3 linked regions of the Homo sapiens genome follow. The protein of the gene in region 3 interacts with the protein of the main gene of each other region in a biochemical or structural test. Each region holds a gene or a part of one and is shown on either strand. Other genes may lie near its edges.

What was found.
Region 1: the proteins of RBBP6 (region 3) and CPSF3 form a complex in vitro, tested with the Homo sapiens proteins (one study listed by BioGRID and IntAct).
Region 2: the proteins of RBBP6 (region 3) and ZBTB38 form a complex in vitro, tested with the Homo sapiens proteins (one study listed by BioGRID).

The regions. Positions count from the first base shown.
Region 1 is NC_000002.12:9,440,611-9,447,719, forward strand, and holds part of CPSF3 (cleavage and polyadenylation specificity factor subunit 3), read left to right. Parts: coding exon 1-56; intron 57-1,207; coding exon 1,208-1,366; intron 1,367-2,904; coding exon 2,905-3,051; intron 3,052-7,109. UniProt on the Homo sapiens protein: Component of the cleavage and polyadenylation specificity factor (CPSF) complex that plays a key role in pre-mRNA 3'-end formation, recognizing the AAUAAA signal sequence and interacting with poly(A) polymerase and other factors to bring about cleavage and poly(A) addition.
Region 2 is NC_000003.12:141,363,772-141,371,592, reverse strand, and holds the start of ZBTB38 (zinc finger and BTB domain-containing protein 38), read right to left. Parts: upstream 3,090-7,821; 5' UTR 2,789-3,089; intron 1,722-2,788; 5' UTR 1,647-1,721; intron 1-1,646. UniProt on the Homo sapiens protein: Transcriptional regulator with bimodal DNA-binding specificity. Binds with a higher affinity to methylated CpG dinucleotides in the consensus sequence 5'-CGCG-3' but can also bind to E-box elements (5'-CACGTG-3').
Region 3 is NC_000016.10:24,542,561-24,549,669, forward strand, and holds part of RBBP6 (E3 ubiquitin-protein ligase RBBP6), read left to right. Parts: intron 1-3,602; coding exon 3,603-3,702; intron 3,703-6,384; coding exon 6,385-6,421; coding exon of another isoform or gene 6,422-6,475; exon of another isoform or gene 6,476-6,841; intron 6,842-7,109. UniProt on the Homo sapiens protein: E3 ubiquitin-protein ligase which promotes ubiquitination of YBX1, leading to its degradation by the proteasome.

The sequences.
Region 1 (7,109 bases), on a different chromosome or scaffold from region 3:
GCAAACAGATCAACATCAATAATCCCTTTGTTTTCAAACACATTAGTAACCTCAAGGTGAGTGCTTGTGGAAGAAAGACAAGGATGGATAAAACCAAATCAGTCATTAGTAGTAGGAGGTACGAGGCCGTGAGTGATGGCTCACAGCTGTAATTTAGCACTTTGGGAGTCTAAGGCAGGAGGATCACTAGAACTCAGGAGTTTGAGACCGGCCTGGGCAAGATAGTGAGACCCTGTCTCTATCAAAATAAAATAAAAATCGTAGGCAGTGCTTGTCAGTGACTCTGGCTGAATTCCTCTTGCTGGAGTCTTACCGCTTCTCAACAGGTGTCGTTTTTCTGCAGAAAATCAAAACTTCAGCAGCTGACATTCTTTTTCTGCTTCAACAGATTTTGCCACTTGCCCCAAGTAGCCATGTGTTCTCAGTATTTATAATACTCATCTCTTTTGCCGTAGGCATAAAAAGTTCTGAGGAGAAAAATATTTTGTATTATGTATTTAAGTTTCTCTTCTCACTCAAACCAAATCATCTTTTTGATTAGTGCTGCAAATTCTATATATGAAAATTTTTATATACTTTTCTGGAAGCATTCAATAAAATCTGATTTTATTTAATTTAAAAAATACTGTTTAACTCGATGCTTGAATCATAATAAAATAATTGATATCCGAAATAATTTAAAAGTGGACTTCCAGTTGTAAATAGGCTTTGTTCATAAAGTATTTATTTTAAGTTAACTGCTTAAGGATTGTAGACAAGTTCTCCCTAGAACAATGTTAAACCTTTTGATTTCCAGGCCAGCTCAAAACATGCATGGAGCATGCAAAGCTATTGTGAGTCTTTGGGAATATTTTTTCAGAGTTGTGTCTTGGGTAGATCAAGACCCATTTGACTCTTCCTTTTACTTTTCTGCCTGCCTGCTAGGCGCTGAAGATGGTCCTGATGGTTCTGATGGCCCTCTAGCTACCAACAGAAGGTTTTGAAGATCGGGGTGAACTTACCGCTTTTTATTACTTGGTTTTTCTACCATTCCTAGCCTAAACTGTTTAGGAATTTGGCAACTGAACTTAAAATGTTTACAGATCTTGTGAAGGCTCTTTCAGTGATGTGATTAATCTCTTAGCCTTTTGTTATTCTTTAAAAAGAAAGAATGCTTTGTCAGCTGCTGGTAGCTAACATACTTTTCCCATTCTGTTTTCTCTCTTAGAGCATGGATCATTTTGATGACATTGGTCCCAGTGTTGTAATGGCCTCCCCAGGCATGATGCAAAGTGGCTTATCCAGAGAATTATTTGAAAGCTGGTGTACTGATAAGAGGAATGGTGTCATTATAGCGGGATACTGTGTAGAAGGGACACTTGCCAAGGTCAGTTACAGTCATAGGCTGTTGTGTTATTCCTATTCAGAATCACGGAGGTGGCACGGTCCTCACAGGTTTTTGCACTGAAGTAGTTCTTCAAATAATACAAGTTTTGATTTTTAAAAATGAGGACGGGAATAGGTAGCTAGAGATGTGCGTAGGATGTAGAATTATGCAGACACTGAATGGCATAATGAGGTCCCAGGTGATTGATATACACATTAAAGTTTGAGAAATGCTCATCTGGTTGCAAGTAGAGAAGAATGGACAGGAACCTGTTTGAGACAAACACGTGAATACTCTCCGTCCTCTCATGAAGAAGAGGTTGACTAATACATATGATCTTAAAAAGCTGTAGAATGTGTTTGGGTTGACCACTTTCTACTATTATGAAACATTGATTTTCAGCTCTTAGGGATGTAGAAATTGTAGAAAATATATGCAGAACTTGGGAGGCAGTTTCTGAGCATCCAGGCATCACATTCTCATCCTCTATTTTATTTTTAAAAATATGATATGATTCTTTGATAATCTTTATTACTTTACCTTATTCTATAAAGTTCTTTAGTGACAATGTTGTATTTAAAATAGATTTCCAGGCTGGGTGCAGTGGCTCACACCTGTAATCCCAGTACTTTGGGAGGCCAAGGCGGGCGGATCACCTGAGGTCAGGAGTTCGAGACCAGCCTGGCCAACATGGCGAAACCCCGTCTCTACTAAAAATACAAAAAATTAGCTGGGCGTGGTGGCGTATGCCTGTAATCCCAGCTACTCGGGAGGCTGAGGCAGGGAGAATTGCTTGAAACTGGAGGCGGAGGTTGCAGTCAGCCGAGATTGGCGCCACTGCACTCCAATCTGGGTGACGGAGCAAGACTCCATCTCCAAAAAAAAAAGAAAAAAAAAATTTCCAGGCCTGGCACAGTGCCTCACATCTGTAATCCTAGCACTTCAGGAGGCCACAGCAGGTGGATCACTTGAGCTCAGGAGTTGGGGACCAGCTTGGGCAACATGGAGAAATCCCATCTCTACAAAAAATACAAAAATTAGCCAGGTGTGGTGGCACGTGCCTGTAGTCCTAGCTAGTTGGGGGACTGAGGCAGGAGGCTTGCTTGAACCCAGGAGGTCGAGGCTGCAGTGAGCTGAGATCGCACACTGCATTTCAGCCTGGGTGACAAAGTGAGACCCTATTTGAAAAAACAAAGATTTTCAGAATAGAAATATATCCACATATCTAGGAAATGACTTTGGAGAGCACAAGAATAGTTGGGAATACAGGTTTGTCTTTCTAAGCATAAGAGTTATGATTCTCACTGCCAGCACTCCAGATAGATGAGTTTTAGTTAATTTGTTTACTTTTCTCATTAAATGTTTGCTTGATTGAGAACATGAGTATTTGATATTTACTGAGTCAGTTATATTAGAATGATTTTGTGCGTAAGGTCCTAAATTTAACATGAATTTATGACTGCATGAAAAAAATGAAAATGTACCTTTACGATTATAACTGGGTAGTTTGTTTTGTTATTTTTCTTTATTTTCCACAGCACATCATGTCTGAACCTGAAGAAATCACTACTATGTCTGGACAGAAGTTACCACTGAAAATGTCTGTTGATTACATTTCTTTCTCAGCTCACACGGATTACCAGCAAACCAGTGAATTTATTCGTGCTTTGAAACCGCCTCATGTGGTTAGTCTATGAATTTCATTTATTGTATTAAAGGGAAAAAAAGTGCATACCCAGGAAACTGTGCAGCAGGCAGTTCACAAAGCAGGCATCATCACCTACTAATGCGACACCCCCTGAGCAGAGCCTTTCACATGCACTCGGATTTGGCCTTTACAACTCCCCTTTGATTTCAGCAAGCTGCCCCCTTTCTCCAGAACTGACTGACTCAGACCTACCAACCCCAATCCTAATGTTTTTCTGTTATTTTCTGCTGCCTCTCCAATAATTTAAGAGCCAGGCTTGGAGTATGACTGCTCATTTGGAATGCCAGCTCCATCTCTTACTTACTATGTAACCCTTGGCAAGTTACTTAACCTCTCTGTACCTCATTTGTAAATAGGAATAATAGCTCATAAGGTTATTGTAAGGATGAAGTGAAAGAACATATCTAAAGCACTTAATATGGTGCCTGGCACATAGTAAATGCTTAATATATATATTATATATATATATATATATTTTTTTTTTTTTTGAGGCGGAGTCTTGCTCTGTCACCCAGGCTGACTGCAACTCCGCCTCCCGGGTTCAAGCAGCTCTCTGCTTCAGCCTCCTGAGTAACTGGGATTACAGGTGCCCACCACCACACCCGGCTAATTTTTGTATTTTTAGTAGAGATGGGGTTTCACCGTCTTGGCCGGGCTGGTCTTGAACTCCTGACTTCATGATACACCCGCCTCGGCCTCCCAAAGTGCTGGGATTACAGGCGCGAGCCACTGCACCCGGCCGACTTACTTATATTTTTAAGTATCGTGTAACTTATTAAAAATAAGTTAGATATTTTGATGGAATTGGAAAGGAGGGGTAAGCTGAAAAAAGTGTGTATTTTTAATTAGAAGAACACTAATGAAGCATGTGTCCATAGAAAATAGATGACGTGCCCTTTCCAAATGTATTGGAAAGCAGGAGAAATGGCCTTTTGTTAGTTTTGTTTGTTTGCTTGTTGTTTGGGGTGTTTTTTGGTTTGTTTGTTTGTTTGTTTGTTTGGATGAAGTCTTGCTCTGTTGCCTAGGCTGGAGTGCAGTGGCGCCAATCTCAGCTCACTGCAGCTTCTGCCTCCTGGGTTAAAGCAATTCTCCTGCCTCAGCCTTCCGGGTAGCTGGGATTACAGGCACGTGCCACCACGCCCAGCTAATTTTTGTATTTGTAGTAGAGACAGGTTTTCACCATGTTGGCCAGGCTGTTCTCAAACTCCTGACCTCAGGTGATCTGCCCGCCTCGGCCTCCCAAAGTGCTAGGATTACAGGCATGAGCCACTGCACCTGGCCTTGCTTGTTGTTTTTTAAATACGTTTTACTGTGGTAAAATATCTAACATAAAATTTGCAGTTTTAACCATTTTTAAGTGTACAAACCAGTGGCATTAATTATATTCACAGTGTTGTACAACCATCACCACTGTCTATTTTCACAGCTTTTCATCACTCCAAGCAGAAACTCTGTACCGTTACACAGTAACTCCCCATTCCCTTCCGCCAACCCTGGTAATCTCAAATCTACTTTCTGTTTCTATGAATTTGACTATTCTAGGTATTTCATATAAGAGGAATCATAATGCCTATGATGTTTTCAAGGTTCATCATGTTGTGGCATGTATCAGCACTTCATGCCGAAGTCATGGTCCGTTATATGTAGACCACATGTTGTTTATCCATTCACCTGTGGGTGGACACTCGGGTTGTGTCACTTTACAGCAAATGTGAAGTGGTATCTCGTTGTGGTTTTTATTTTCATTTCTCTAATGACTAATGATGTTGAGCACCTTTTCATGCAGTCTTTTGTTCGTTTTTGAGTTTTTTCTAGCATGATAGGCCTCACAGGTATTTGCCACTGGCCCTTAATGAGCAGATTATTTGGTCAAGAAAAATCACTCTCCTGTCTATAGCATCACAGTGTGTAGGGTTTAGTCACAGAGTAGGCTCCTCCCAGGTGTTTCTTATTGTCTGTGTGCATGAACACTCCCCCAGATTTCCAAGCCAGGGAGGAAAAGCCGAATTGCTCTTTTGTGTGGTGTCACCACCTCATCCTCAGCCCCATTTCATCCTGTCACTCTCCTGGTTCTACTTCTGCTGACAGTTTAAGTTCCTGGGTTGAACTTCATGCTCATTTTCTTGTGATAACCAGCTCCAGCAAAAGTATAGCTGCAGGATAAAATTGCAATACTAGTAGTGTTGGTGGTAGTAATGAATACTAGCTAACATTGATTATTTACCATGTGCCGGACACTGTATATGTGTTTTATATGAACTGACTTGCTTAATCTTCATGACCGACAGCTGTTCTGCAGATGAGACAACTGAGGTGTGAAATCACTTGGTCAAGGTTACACAGCTTAAATAAGCAGCAGCACCAGGATTCTGTTCAGGCAGCCAGGCCCAGGCCCTTCCCCAGCAAGCAGTAAGCCCCTGCCACGTGCTGGTGCTGGCTATGCCCAGCCACAAGCCATCTACCACATGTGAGAGGCTAAGAACAATCTATCTTGGCCGGGCTGCAGTCCCAGCACTTTGGGAGGCCGATGTGGGTGGATCACTTGAGGCCAGGAGTTCGAGACCAGCCTGGCCAACATAGTGAAACCCCATCTCTACTAAAAGTATAAAAATTAGGCAGGGCACGGTGGCTCATGCCTGTAATCCCAGCATTTTGGGAGGCCAAGGCGAGCAGATCACGAGGTCAGGAGATGGAGACCATCCTGGCTAACACGGTGAAACCCCGTCTCTACTAAAAATACAAAAAAATTAGACGGGTGTGGTGGCAGGTGCCTGTAGTCCCAGCTACTCGGGAGGCCGAGGCAGGAGAATGGCGTGAACCTGGGAGGCGGAGCTTGCAGTGAGCCGAGATCACGCCACTAGACTCTAGCCTGGGCGACGGAGCGAGACTCGGTCTCAAAAAAAAAAAAAAAAAAAAGTATAAAAATTAGGTAGGCATGGTGGTTCACACCTGTATCCCAGCTACTTGGAGGCTGAGGCATGAGAATCCCTTGAACCCTCGAGGCAGAGGCTGCAGTGAGCCAAGATCACGACACTGCACTCCAGCCTGGGTGGCAGAGTAAGACTGTCTCAAAAAAAAAAGAACAATCTGTCTTGTAAGATAGAAGTTACAAAAGTGAATGGAAAGGGACTGGTAGCTAATGCTGTTGTTGTAAATACCCTCTAAAATATTCCATTTGGGGCTGAGCACAGTGGCTCATGCCTGTAATCGTACCACTCTGCAAGGCTGAGGTGGAAAGACTGCCCAGAAGTTTGAGACCAGCCTAGACAACATAGTGAGACCTTGTCTCTACAAGAATAAAATAAAACTAGCCAAGCATGGTGGCTCATGCCTGTAGTCCCAGCTACCTGGGTGGCTAAGGTGGGAGGATTGTATAAGCCTGGGAGATTGAGGCCACGGTGAGCCAAGATTATGCCACTGCACTCCAACCTGGGCAACAGAGCAAGACTCTCTTTAAATAAAGAAATATATAAAGTAATAAAATGTTCCATTTGGTTCTGAAATATTTTATTAGGATAGGTACAGTGGCTCACGCCTATAATCCTAGCATTTTGGGAGGCCAAGATGGGCAGATCACTTGAGCCCAGGAGTTCAAGACCACCTTGGGCAATATGTGAGACCGTGTCTCTACAAAAAATACAAATATTAGCCGGGCATGGTGGCGTGTGCCTGTAGTCCCAGCTACGTGGGAGGCTGAGGCAGGAGGATTGCTTGATCCCTGGAGGTTGAGGCTGCAGTGAGCCATGATCACATCACTGGACTCCAGCCTGCGCAACAGAGTGAGACCCTGTCTCCAAAAATATATCAATATATGAGGTAGGCCAGGCACAGTGGCTCAAGCCTGTAATCCCAGCACTTTGGGAGGCCAAGGTGGGTGTCAAGAGTTCGAGACCAGCCTGACCAACATGGTAAAACCCCGTCTCTACTAAAAATACAAAAAATTAGCCAGGCATAGTGGCGTGTACCTATAGTGCCAGCTACTCGGGAGGCTCAGGCAGGAGAATCGCTTGAACTCAGGAGGTAGAGGCTGCAGTG
Region 2 (7,821 bases), on a different chromosome or scaffold from region 3:
GGTGGGTGGTGGATTGCTTGAGCCCAGGAGTTCAAGACCAGCCTGGGCAACATGGTGAAACCTTGTTTCTACAAAAAATACAAAAATTAGCCAGGCATGGTGACACATGCCTGTAGTCTCAGCTACTTGGGAGGATCGCTTGAGCCTGAGAAGTTGAGGCTGCAGTGAGCCATGATCGTGCCACTGCACTCCAGCCTGGGTGACAGAGTGAAACCCTGTCTCAAAGAAAAAAAAAGTTTCTCGGCTGGGCGCTATGGCTCATGTCTGTAATCTCAGCACTTTGGCAGGCCAAGGCCGGCAGATCACGAGGTCAAGAGATGGAGACCATCCTGGCCAACATGGTGAAACCCCATCTCTACTAAAAATACAAAAATTAGCTGGGTGTGGTGGTGCGTGCCTGCAGTCCCAGCTACTCAGGAGGCTGAGGCAGTAGAATCACTTGAACCTGGGAGGCAGAGGTTGCAGTGAACTGAGATCATGCCGATGCACTCCAGCCTGGCAACAGAGTGAGACTCTGCCTCAAAAAAAAAAAAAAAAAAAAAAAAAAGAAAGAAAGAAAAGAAAAGAAAAAACAGTTTAATAACTTGGTTTAAAGGTCTAACCTTCGGGAATTTTCACCCTGATCAAATGTCCCAAGACCTGGAGCAGATCCTGTAGGATACATTTCCAAAGCCTCCAGTAGCAGAGAAAACTACGAGCTAAGGAAGTCAAGAGCTTTCCTATAGACCACTGGGGCTCATAGTTGGGGGAGCAGAATTCTGTCACAATTCCAACTAATATGACTAGATCCAGGAAGAAGAGAAAGCCAGTATAGTCCTAGACCAAGAGGATCCTGAGAGGAAAAATAAGTAAAAGGAAATAAGGAAAATGTCCTTCATGGTTCACTGGCCATGGGCAACATGATGCTTAGGGTCATAATGGACAGAGGTGTTGAGAAATCTCATCCATTGCATCTTGCCCTCATGGCCAGATGTTACCTAAGAGTGTCAGTCAGGAAAACCTAAATGTGGATAATTGTTTACTTCTCCCACTGTTTCTATGCAACTTTATCCTTGAGTATCTCCAAGTTTCTTTTATGTGCTGTGCCAGAGAGAACTACCTCTTCTTCAGAAACCCCTCCAGAGCTGTCACTGCTAAGTGGCTGCTCCACCAAGGACTACATTTCCCAGACTCCTCTGTGGTTAGCTGTGGTCATGTGATGGAGTTTTAGCCAATGGAATGTGAGTAGAAGTAACACGCACCACTTCTAGGCAGAGCCCATAAAAAACTCCCATGTGCACTTTTTCATGCTCTTTTCTTACTGCACTGAGGAGTGGAGACACCCCTAGGCGACCTTGAAAACCACATGCTGCAGAAGGCAAAGCCCCTCTCTACCTGTGTCTCTGAATGAATGCATGAAAGACAGTTGCCCCACTGACCTGTACTGTTACATGAGCAAGAAATAAACTATTGTGTTTGAGCCATTATAGATTTGGGGTTCTATTATAACAATTAGCCTATCCTAATATCCTTTTTAATATAGCTGTAATCATTGTGTACAGAAATCTCTGTGCCCTTTCCCCTTTTCTTTGAATCTTACCACAAACTAAAAAAGGAGAATTGGGAGACTTAAATTTAAGTAGCTGTTGGGGACAAATGACACTTACCAAATTAGTGGTCACAACATTCAGATCTTAGAGCCAGAAGAACAGGACTACAGCAGAGCCTCACTTCAAGACAACCTAATATATTAAAGTAAAACAAAAAGTAAAACATAAGGCCTATAAAACAGATATTTTAGTGTGTGATAGTTAATTTCCAAAGGGAGTTGTCCATTTACAAAGGAATATGCCACTGTTTTCCAGTAAATGACAAGCTTCCTTACTGCCTTTAAAATGAGACTTACGCCTCCCCGCTCCCAGTCATTTTAACATAGAATTTCTGAAGAACAGATCTCCCCTGGTACGTCAGCTATACGAAGACTAGATGCTGACTCAGGGGATGACTTAGAAGCCGGGAAAATCAGGGTATGATTTCTATGCCTACGTGCTGTTCTCATGTATGTGTCAAAACTTTTCTCTTGGGAACTTAACTTTCTTGGGTAGGAACTTCCAGAGGTCGTGAAATTATAGGCTTTGTAAAGAACTATGAGTTTTTAGACAAAGTTAAAACAGACACATTGTGTCTTTGTGCTTAATATCATCCCAGATACGATGGCACAAGTAGGAATGAAAATAAGTCCTCTGTAAACAGGGCGATAAGATAATGGAGGTTCATACACAGAACAATCAGAAACGTGCTCAGTAAAGGCAGCACAATTATGTACATCTTTTTACCAGGGCTGTCATATTTTACCAGGTTAAGTGTGAAAATACCATTTGATGGCACAGGACACGTATTTGCCTAGAACAGGGTTTATTTTTATGTCTGATCGCTCAGTATAAGATCTAGGAAGCAAACAATCCAGAACTCTGAACAAACATTCTGACAGCCTGAAACGGAATACTCAGGTGAGGGGAGGAAGAGGAGGCAAAACAAGAGGGTTGACAGGGAAAGGCATCAGTTGGGCTGTTCTCCCCAGGGTTTCCGTCTTAGTATTGTTTTTTTTTTTTTTTTTTGCATTCTTTTCTGATCCTGTGGAGAGAGATATCAGATCCCTTTGGGGCCGTATTTAGAGGGTCTCCCAAATGCAGTCCCTACTCCCAACTCTGGGCTGGGGCTTGGCAAGCTGTAGGCGTCAGGGAACAAGATGGCGCCCTACGGTGAAGGGCGCTGAGTGAGGGGGGGCCAAAAGTGGGCCTTCACTTACTCGGAGGCGCTGGCTCCTCTGAAACCCAGACGCTGTCAACTCCCTGGGCCCAGGAGTCACAACCGCTTTCGTGCTCTGGGTTCTTCACTTCTTGTGATCAGCTCCACATATTTTTCTGATGATGTCACCCATTCTGACTTCCTACATTTTGAAAGTTGATCTACAAGTAAAATCTTTCGTGAGGCTTAAAAAAAAGAAGAAAAGAAATAAAAGGTGTGCTATAGGGAGATGGAGAGGAAGAGAAAGGCCGTTGCCTCTTTATTTTGAGATTTGCTGCAGCTGCGAGTGCCACTCCCCAACTAGTTTCCTGGCTTCAGAGGGAGGCCAGTGGCCGGGCGTGGGTGACGTCAGGGCCAGGCCTGAGTCATCGCCAGCAGCCCGGGCCGGGCTGCCCTGCCACTCGGAAGGGGACAAAAGGAACCTTTGATGTCCAGAGGCCCTCCTCTCAGCACACTCGCCGGCACAGACCAGCAGGCCAGGAGAACATTCCTGCCGTCTCCCCACCCCCAGCCGCCCTTCCTACTTCCGGAACAGCCCCAGACAGATTCAACAAGGCCTCCCCAAAGGACATCACCCTCCTGCATGGCAGAGGCATGGCCGTGCTCTGTCAGAGAAGCAGGGAAGAAGAAGAGGGTGTTTCCCTGGGGACCTCTCACTGCCCCTCTGCCATCCCCCTTCTTCTGTGTGGTGCCCACCTTACTCAAGGAGTTGCAGTGGTATTGAAAGAGATGCGGAAAGGTGGAAGGCACTTTTGTCACCATCCCCGGGCAGCTCCTGGTGGTCAGTGTCTATTCTCCTCTGCCTCTGTGCTGTGGCCCTGGGCTTCGCTCCCTACCCTGGGTGCCAACATGAACTAGCTCTTCCTGGATTTAAGACATGACCACTCTTTAAAGGGGATATTTATATCTCAGTGCCTGGCATGAGGCTTGGTAATTATATGATGAATTAAGGAATGATAATTGTAAAATAAAATAGTAGAGGACACATATTAAATACTTAGAGTGAACATTCAAGCCTCTGTGCTTTATGAAGATTATTTCATTTATTGGTATTATCACAACAAAAAAGCTGTGAGGTAGGTACTATTAATATTCCTAATGCTATAGAGAAAGAAATGGATGCTCAGAGAGGTTAAGACACTTCTCTAAAGCCTCACAGCTAGTTAGTTCATGGCAGAGCCTGGATCATCTAATCTCACATCCTGTTTTCTTAATCACGGTGCTGAGTGGCTGGAGTGAATGAAGGAATATTGACCAAGGGCAACCTGGCCAGGAGAAAAGAGACAAAGATGGGACTTGAAACCACATCCTACAAGGAAACAATGAAACAATTAGGAATGTTCTGGCAACATGGGCCTCATGCCTTCTTACTGCGTCAACACCAGGTCTGAGGTTTGGCAAGTGGGTGGCTTACTCAGCGTAGCCAGGAGGGCGAATCAGTCATCAGGTTCAAGTGGGGATGAGAAACTAGGGAGGTCGGATGGACGCAAGCCTGTGGCATGTGGTAGATGCAAAATCCGAGAGCCACGGGGTACAGAGTACCTCGGCGGGAGCCAGAGTCCACGCTTGTCTTTGTTGCCTTCTGGCCTCATGGATGTAGGTGGGAGGGTCAGTCCATCTGGGGTGGACAAGAAGGCTACAGGAAGAAGGACATGACGGCACTCTCAAAGATTCCAGACTCAGAAAGAGTTGGAACTGTGGTGTGGTTTTAGAGTGCAGGAGGAGTGAGAAGGGATTGGGAACAGATCTGGACCTGACAATGGTAGTTACTTTCTACTCTTAGCGCCCTCCTACCAGGAATCAGCTGCCTTTCTGGGCCTGAGGAAGAGTCCTGGCAATGGCTGTGGGCAAGCAAAGGCGAGGAGGGGTGGTGAGAAGAGAACATCTGCTTATCGGGGTATCTGGGCCCAGCATAAGAATGACCTACGAGGTAGCTTCTCCCTCTGTGGTTTATGATTCTGTGGTTTGTACTTTTCCATGATTCTCTTAGAGTAAATGTCTCATTCCAAGAGGAAGACAAAACCAGGAATTTCCAGCCCCTTGTGGAGGCCTCCTTGATAACACACCCACAGCTTTCCTTCCCACTGTGGGTGGGGTGTCAGGTCACAGAGACCACTCTCCCTGACTCAGGCAATCTATGCCTCTGATGCCTGGGACATTGTGTAGTTCTACCTTGTTCCTGGGAGCTCTGCCAGTTGCCACTCTGAGGAATTGCACTTGTTCCATGTAGTTTGAATCCCTAGGCAGGTGGAATTTATAGAGGTGAATTTCACAAGAGAGAAAGCTACATGCTTTTAATCAAGGGAGCAGCAGCAACTGATCAGGTTCACTGTCAGTGTCTGCACACAGCCTGATCTTGGGCTGAGGAAATCGCTTTAAGTTCCAGGCATTTTTGGCAGAAGACTTGTTTATTCTTTTCTTCCTTCTCTGCAGAAAATGCCTCTGGGCACCTCCCTGCTCTGTTTCCCCAAAGACTCAGTGGCCTTGCTTGCTTCATATACACAGGTATTTATTTCTCTAATAAGATGAACAGAGGCTGATTATTTCTTCACCCTGCATCCTATCAGGATAATGTGAACAGAAAAATAAAGAAAAGAAGCAGAAATGATCAGTAAGCTTAAGTGAGACACAGATTCTTGGGTTATATGCTCTGGGGTTGATACTAACAGTGAAAATAAAATCAGAGAACTGGGAAAAATATCCACTTGGAGATACAGAGAAGTAAGTACAATGGCACTTCCCTGGTCTCTACGTGAAGTGGAGCATCCTCCTCCTTTGCTACAACAAATGCAGTTAAATGCTGGTAATTAAAACCAAACCTTTATGAATGCAAGGAATTCCTTGGAAGACTTGTCTATACTTGTTGACTTAGATTTCTCTCATTTTATTCCCTCTCTTTAAAAAAAATTATTAAGGTATAATTTACATATCAGAAAGTTCACTCACTTAAAGTGTACAATTCAATGGGTTTTAGTGTATTTACAGAATTATGTAATTTGTAATCTATTTTTTTTTAACACTTTTTGTCACCACCCCAAAAAACACCATGCTTATTAGGTATCATTCTTCATTTGTCCCCACCTACCAGCCCTAGATGACCACTCATCTAGTTTCTGTCTCTATAGATTTTCCTCTTCTGGACATTTTCTACAAATGGAATCATACAATATATGGTTCAAATATTTGTCCTCTCCAAAACTCATGTTGAAATTTAATCTCCAATATGGCAGTACTGAGAGGTGGGGTCTTTCAGAGGTGGTTAATCCACTCATGGATTAATGGATTAATTGGTTAATGGATTAATGGGTTATCACAAGAGAGAGACTTGTGGCTTTATAAGAAGAGGAAGAGGGACCTGAGCTAGCACTCTCAGCCACCTTGCCATGTAATGTCCTGTGTCACCTTGGGACTTGGCAGAGAGTCCGCACCAGCAAGAAGGTCCTCACCAGATGTGATCCCTAGACTTTGGACTTCTCAGCCTTCATAACTGTAAGAAGTGAATTTCTTTTCTTTATAAATTACCCAGGTTCAAGTGTTCTGTTTAAGCAACAGCAAATGAACTAAGGCATAGAATACTTTAGTACTTCTTTCCTTTTTATGCCCAAATAATATTCCACTGTGTGGGTATACAACATTTTGTTTATCCAAATCTCAGTTGATGAACACTTGAGTTGTTTTCACTTTTTGGCTGTTATGAATAATGTTGCTATGAACATTCATGTGCAAGTTTTTTTTTTGTGGACATGCATTCATGTCTCTTGGGTAGACACAAAAGAGTGGGATTGCTGAGTGATATCGTACTATGTTTAACATTTTGAGAAACTATCAAACTGTTTTCCAAAGTGCTGCATCATTTTACATTCTCACTAGCAATTTATGAGGGTTCTGATTTCCCCACATCCTCACCAATGCTGTTATTGCCTGTCTTTTTTATTATAGCCATCCTAGTGGGTACAATGTGATATCTCATTGTGATTTTGAACTGCATTTAACAAATGACTAATGATGTTGAGTGTGTTTTCAGGAGCTTATTGGTCACTTGTATATCTTCTTTGGAGAACTGTCTATTCAAATCCTTTATCTTTCAAATTGGGCTTTTTTTTTTTTTTTTTTTTTTTTTTTTTTTTTTAGATGTAGTTTCCCTCTTATTGCCTCAGCTGGAGTGCAATGGCACAATCTCAGCTCACCACAACTTCCACCTCCCGGGTTCAAGCGATTCTCCTGCCTCAGCCTCCCGAGTAGCTGGGATTACAGGCATGTGCCACCACACCTGGCTTATTTTGTATTTTTAGTAGAGATGGAGTTTCTCTATGTTGGTCAGGCTGGTCTTGAACTCCCGACCTCAGGTGATCTCCCTGCCTCAGCCTCCCAAAGTGCTGGGATTACAGGTGTGAGCCACCTGGACTAAAATTTTTTTTTTAAAGTTTTCAGTTTTAGGGATTCTTTATATATCCCAGACACAAGTCCCTTATCAGATATATTTTACAATATTATCTCCCTGTCTATGGTTGTCATTTCATTTCTGGTTGGTGTTATTTGAAGCATAAAAATTTTTAATTTTGATGAAGTCCAACTGGTCTTGAACTCCCGACCTCAGGTGATCTGCCTGCCTCAGCCTCCCAAAGTGCTGGGATTACAGGCGTGAGCCACCACACTCGGCCTAATTTTTTTTTTTAAATTTTTGAGTTTTAGGGATTCTTTATATACCCCAGACAAAAGTCCCTTACCAGATATATATTTTACAATATTATCTCCCTGTCTATGGTTGTCATTTCTTTTCTGGTTGGTGTTATTTGAAGCATAAAAGTTTTTAATTTTGATAAAGTCCAACTTATCAATCTTCTCTTTCATCACTTGTACTTTTGGCATCATATTTGAGAAAACATTATCTAACCCAAGGTCATGAAGATTTACACCTGAGTTTTCTTCTGAGAGTTTTATAGTTTTAGTTCTTACATTTAGATCTATGATACACTTTAAGTTAATTTTGCCTATGGTGTGAGGTAGGGATCCACATTCATTCTTTTCATGTGG
Region 3 (7,109 bases):
CGATTCTCATGCCTCAGCCTCCCAAGTAGCTGGGACTACAGGCATGCGCCACTACACCCAGCTAATTTTTTTTTGTATTTTTAGTAGAGATGGGGTTTTGTCTTGCTGGCCAGGCTGGTCTCGAACTCTTGGCCTCAAGTGATCCACCCACCTGGGTCTCCCAAAGGGCTGGGATTACAGGCATGTGAATGCAACTTTAGACTGGGTAAGTTATAGTTAAAAGAATCCTGTCCGGAAATTTAAGAGTTTTGTGACTTTGTGTAACCAATTTTTTTTTCCTAGCCCAGGAAATAAATGATACGTAATTCAAACCCAGAAAGCCAGGAATGTGTTTTTGCCCAGCACATTTTCTTTTTTATATTTATGTGAACTGCCCTTTATTGGAGAAAGCTTTGATGTTCGGTTTGTTAAGAAAAGGGAGCTTTGAGGGAGAAAATGTGTATTTTATGCAGTCCTCAAATTAAGAGAGAAAGAGATATTGATGGTAGCTACTTAACTAGTTTTATGGGAAATAGTATCCAATGTCACAAGGCAGTTGAGTAGAATGCCATTTGGTTTTAGCACCGATATTCAACATATTTACTAAAGAAAACTATGGTAATCTTTTTATCACAGTTAAGGTCCAGTTTCTTAATTTCATTCTTATAATTTTAAAATCCCTAATCTACCATGTTTCTGTAAAACATTTCCTTACAGTTTTGGAATTATGTGCATGTTTAGGTCCCTTAAATCTTTTTTTTTTTTTTTTTTGGAGACACATCCTCACAGGCTAGAGTATAATGGCACAATTTTGGCTCATTGCAGCTTCAACCTACCAGGCCCAGGTGATCCTCCCACCTCAGCCTCCCAAGTAGCTGGACTACAGCCACACACCACCATGCCTGGCTAATTTATTGTAATTTTTTTTTATTTTATTTTGGTAGAGATGGGGATTTTGCCATGTTGCCCAGGCTGGTCTCCTGAGCCCAAGTGTTCTCCTGCCTTGGCCTCCCAAGGCCATCCCAAAGTGCTGGGATTATAGGCTTGAGCCACTGTGCCTGGCATAGGACCCTTAAATCTTGATAAGACTGAAACGCTTGGGTCAGAATTCCATGGATTTTAGACAAGAATCCTGCTTGTTTCTAGACTGTATTTCAAAATGAATATCAAGTAATCTTTGTTATATATGAGAAACTTTTCTGCACACCGACCCCTAAAAAACAAAACATCCTTCGTTCTGAAATTAAAGTGTGAGAGGTTTGGAAGCTGAATATGAAGTGTTTATAAATGACCCTTGTCACCTTTCTTACTCTCCATTTCTCGGATTCATTCTGTTTTTCATTTCATCCATGCCTTTCATGTCTGGGGTCAAAAAAACTGGCAAGCAGAAAGGGTCTTTTGAAGCCAACAGACTACTTGTTAAGGAGGTATTTTAAATGAAATACCCCCAAAGTGTCTTTATTACCCCTAGAAAGATACTTTGAGGGGTAAGAAATCATTGTAATTCAGGTATTTAAAAAGTCAGTTAGAACATCTGTTTTGAAGGGCATTGAGGCACCTTTTAGTTTGACACAGTACGGTGCTAATCAAATTAATAAGCTGTCTTGGAAAGCTCTTGTGAGTGCATTGAGTTGTTACATATTCAGAAACTTCCTGTCAGGTGTTTGACACAAAGTTTTATTTCTAGAATTAACTTTTAAAAAAATCTAGTCACCCCATGCTCTCAGTTTTTCTGACTCAAAGCTTCCTCGGAATTTGGGGCTATCATGAACTGTCCAAGATAAAGATTATAGTCCTACATTGGCATGCCTAAATCTAGGAAATTGCCTACCTCTAATTGAATGCCTGTGAGATAGTGCCTTCTACTTGAAGTATATAGAAAATAACCCTTGCCTGAACAATTTCATTTCTAACAATACTATTAGCATTATGACTAAAAATAATTAATATACATTAAAAGCCGAATATGCCTACATATGTGGTAAGCGTAATAATCGGAAGAACAGAGATAGTCACTTTGTGCAGAGTAACTTTAAGTGAAGCAAGTAAACTTAATGACAATAAAAAGGCCTGGTTGTGTGATTAAAGGAGATGGATACATTTTTGCATCTCTAGGTAATTTTTCTTTTTGGTAATTTTACAGATTCTTTCTGTAGCAAATCTTTTTACCATAGTTAAGGTCCATTTTCTTAATTTCATTCTTATACAAGTATTGCAAATAGCCCAAGGAGTGTAAAAATAGGATCCATTCTTCTCCCTCTTGGTTTTCCCAGAAGGTGACATCACTGTTTATCCGATGACTGAAGCCAGGAACCCAGGGATTCCTCTGGCCTGATTCCTCTTTCTTCTTCATTTCCTTCATCTCCCCCATATTCGGTCCATCAGCAAGCTTTGTCAATCCTACCTGCAAACATTCTGTCTTTATTTCTCACATCATAACACAGGTCGTCATTATCTCTACCTGGATTTTTTAGCAGCCTGGTTATTAGTCCCCTGGTTTCTACTCTTGTTCTCCTACAGTTTGTGCTCCACATTGGTGCCACAGTAGTCTTTTTTTGAGACAGAGTCTTGCTCTGTCACCAGGCTGGAGTGCAGTGGCGCGATCTCGGCTCACTGCAGCCTCCCAGGTTCATGCCATTCTCCTGCCTCAGCCTCCTGAGTAGCTGGGACTACAGGCGCCCACCACCAAACCTTCCTAATTTTTTTGTATTTTTAGTAGAGATGGGGTTTCACCGTGTTAGCCAGGATGGTCTTAATCTCCTGACCTCGTGATCCGCCCCCCTCAGCCTCCCAAAATGCTGGTATTACAGGCGTGAACCACCGCGCCTGGCCAGTAGTCTTTTTTTCTTTAACAAAAAGCAAATAATCACTTTGCTTAAAATCCTTCAGTGTCTTCCTGTTGCACTTCAAAACAAAATATAAATCAGTGTATGGTCTATACCTTTCTGTCATTCTTTTCTTTTATTTTCTTAGGCTCTTCAAGCCGTTTCGTATCATTTTTCTACATGCTTTTTTTATCCTTTGCCTGAAATAGTCCTCAACCAGTTTTTTTCCTGTATCTGGCTGGGTTCTCAGTCTTTAAGTATCCAGTAGAAGTTCCTCCAAGGGGCTTTCTTGGAATCAACATTCTATCTGAAGTTGTATTCCACTATTCATTCCTTATTAGAAAACCATTTTCTCTTTATTCATAACGTCATAATTTAATTTTTAGTCTATCTTCCTCAGTAATAATTTCTGTGAATGCAGGGATTGTAATACTCAACTAACGTTTAGGGACTAGGAGAGACAGAATATCTTCATTCCGAATAACGGCTTTTTCACCATTCACATGTTCAGCATTTCAGACTAAACTAAAGAATGACGGTGTTACTGAGATTTGGAGTTCCACAAAAGTAGAAGTGCTAGAGCCAAGAACCTGCTGATGATATTGGTTGTCCTTTGAAAAGAAGCCCTCTTAGGGCTTTGGATGTTTGTTCTGACAATATCAGTAATCTAGTTGCAAGGAACTTGTAGTTATTATATTTAAAGTCATTTCCCATGAAATTTATATTTGAAGTTTTCTAATTCTTGGTTACGCACTCAAATCCCCAAATGGAAATTCAATTCTGTCTTTTTATTTACAGAATATACTGATGATAATGCTCTGATTCCTAAGAATTCTTCTGTAATTGTTAGAAGAATTCCTATTGGAGGTGTTAAATCTACAAGCAAGACATATGTTATGTAAGTATCAAATCTCATGTATTTCTCAAAATAGACTTTTTTTAGTTTTTTTAATTTTGTGAGAAAAAACTGTATTTTAGAACTGAACTCATTACTTTAACCTTAATGAATACATCTTCTCAAGACTGTGAGGATAGTAGGTTTCTTTGTTCGTTTGTTTTTGATTTCCTCCCCCAGTTAAATTGACTTAGCCTGTTGTGAGAGGGCCATTATTAGGAAAAATTTTTCTCCATATGGCCAGTATTTACAGATACAAGAAAGTGATATTCACATTATTTCTGTGCCTTTCTTTGACTACTTTTTTTTGTGGGGGTTCCTTCAGTTTTCTTCACTACAAAAATTTGGTGTTGTAGACATCGGTCCTAAATATTTTGACAGCATCAAGAGTATTCAGTAATGCTAACATTTACTCTTTATCAATAAGGGGCTTTGGCTGAGAGGCATAAAGTATATAGGATTTATAATCATGGGCACTGAAATCAGGCTTAGATTTGACTCCATTTACTGCTTCATACCAGTTGTGTGACTTTGGACCTTGGGTAAGTCTCTGTGCCTCAGATTCCTCAAAAATAAAATAGGGACGTGAGTACTTAACTCTAGAGGGTTGTAAGAATTAAATAGTGTCTGGCACATGCTAAATGCACATTATTGGAGTAGGAAGAGAGCAGTCTCACAACTAGTCCGGAGCTGGTATTCACTAACCTGGGGCAGGATTAAAACCTTATATCCTTAACTTTCTCTGCTTTCTTGCAATTTCAGTAGTGATAGCAGAACTATAATATGTGAAAAGGGCAGCAACATAGGTTATTTAAAGAGTAGTGATTTTCACTTAGAATTAGGTAGTATTGTTTGAAATTGGAACAAATTATTTTGAGTCAATGAAAAATTCTAGAATTTGCCAGTGCTAGGGAATGGAAAGTGTTCTTGAAATTAAGGTAAAAATAAAGTCATTTCTTGGAGCTTTACCTCATATGGGCAAGTATTCTAAGATTTTTCTCATTAGTTTGTTGTAAAGTTATATTCCATATCTTAACACTTAGAGGTCCTTTTGTGCAGTATCTTCCATATAATAGCTACTTTAAAAAGCTGAATACTTTCCTTGTTGTAATTGCCAAGTGAACTTTTAATGGTGTGTGTTCTTAACTTTAAATGATTCTAAGAATTATATATATATGTGTGTATATATATATATTGTTTTGTTTTGTTTTGTTTTTTCCTGAGATGGAGTCTCACTCTGTTGCCCAGCCTGGAGTGCAGTGGCACAATCTTGGCTCACTGTAGCCTCCGGGCTCAAGCGATTCTCCTGCCTCAGCCTCCCAAGTAGCCAGGATTATGGGTGCCCACCACCAAGCCTGGCCAATTTTTGGATTTTTAGTAGAGACTGGGTTTCACCATGTTGGCCCGGCTGGTTTCAAACTCCTGACCTCAGGTGATCCACCCAACTTGGCCTCCCAAAGTACTGAGATTACAGGCGTGAGCCACCGCACCCAGCCTAAGAATTATAAATTTATGGGGAGAATTAATTCCTACAATCCAGTGTGAAATTTTACTTTAATTTACCAAGTGCTTTTTAAAAAATGGCAAATGTATTTTCTGTAGATTTTTTGATAGAAACTCTTAAGAATTATTTGAAGTACATGGCAAAATAAGTTGCCTCTTACACAGAATTATATGTTAATGTACAATATATAGGGTTCTGTTTGTAATAAATTTGCCTCATAAAATGCATCTCAGTTTTTTTTTGAGCAAATACTAGAAAATCAAAGCTCAGTTTTTTTTTTATCTCAAATTCCAAATTATACACACACCTAGAAACTCCTGTTAGATGCTAACATTTCTCTATAGTCAAGATACCTTAAACTTTAAGCATTAAAAGGCTATAATCTAGCAACTCAACTTCTTCCCCTTTCCTGTGTGGATTAAAATAATTTCTTTTGGGGTTTATGTCTTTTAAACATCAAATTGTCCAGTTCTACACAGCCATTTAAGTCAGTTCTTTTAACTAAAATACTCTGATTATATTGTGTTTTTCTGGGAGTGAGAATTTTTGTTCAGTTTTTTTTTTTTTTCTGTTTTTAAGAGATGGGGTCACTATGTTACAGCCCAGGTTAGTCTCAAACTCCTGGGCTCAAGTGATCCTCTCACCTTGGCCTCTTGTTCAATCCTTGATTGTTGTTTTGAGACATTTGAAAAATGAAAATAGCTATCAGCCTGGCCCTCCAGATTTGAAAATTAGTTTTGGGAGCACAGCAATTTCTCAGGGATTCAAATTACAAATGTTAACAACAGCAGTCTTCCTGATGTGTGAAAATTTACGCATTCAGAAACTGGGAAATTATATAATTTAAAATTTTCAGTTTATTAAGAATAAACTACGTTTCTAAACATAAAATCCCTATACTACCTTTCAGAAAACATTTGTTTTAAGTGGCAGGGTACACCTATTTTTGAATTCCCTAGTATGGAATTTTTTTCCAAACCACAAATCTATCTTAAAACTGCTCAAAGGTGGTAAAGATTAATCAGAGTAATTTATTCATTCAGAAATTGGCTGTTAAATATTTATACCAAAGGAAAATTAGGTTCCTAAAAATGTATTATTGAAGATAATGTGTTAAAATTTATTAGCACAAAAATTCATAAATAGCTAATGTTAATTTTTGTTTTTATTTTGTGTTTTAGAAGTCGAACTGAACCAGCGATGGCAACTACAAAAGCAGTATGTAAAAACACAATCTCACACTTTTTCTACACATTGCTTTTACCTTTATAATGTAGCAGTGAAGTAAATCATTTTAGAACTTAATATCCAACTGATCATAGTACATATTGTAAATAAAATGTATTTTGATGACAGCTCAGTTGAATATGGATAATATGTGGCATCACTTGCACACTTATTTTGTAGAAATGGGTAATTTGTGCCCGTAACACTGTTTCATATTAAATATGATAGCATTATCCCTGTATGACACTGTGTTGTACAGTTAATGTATGATCCTTTTTAGATCGTTTAGGTTTTACACTAAGGAACATGATGACATGTTCTACATTTGTCTGTCTATAGTTAGTATTTTGTATGTATGTACAGGCTGTTGTGTGCTTTTTGTTTCTTGCAATAAAAAATGTTTGGAGTGTATATTTTGCCATTTTCACGTTGTATCACTTAGTTTTTGTTAGTTTTTTTTTTCCTGCCTGATTTATGGCTTCCAAAAACGCATTAGCAACATGCAAAGCTTATATTAAAGTTTGATGCTTTCTCCAAGTTCAAACACATCATAGAAAAGAGCTTTCCAGAGACCATTGATGCAGCTTTATTATTTAGTCTTGCTTTATTTGGCATTTTGAGCTCCTTCTTTTGTTTACATCTGTACTATAAAGTGAAACCTGAACCTGGGGCCCCCTAT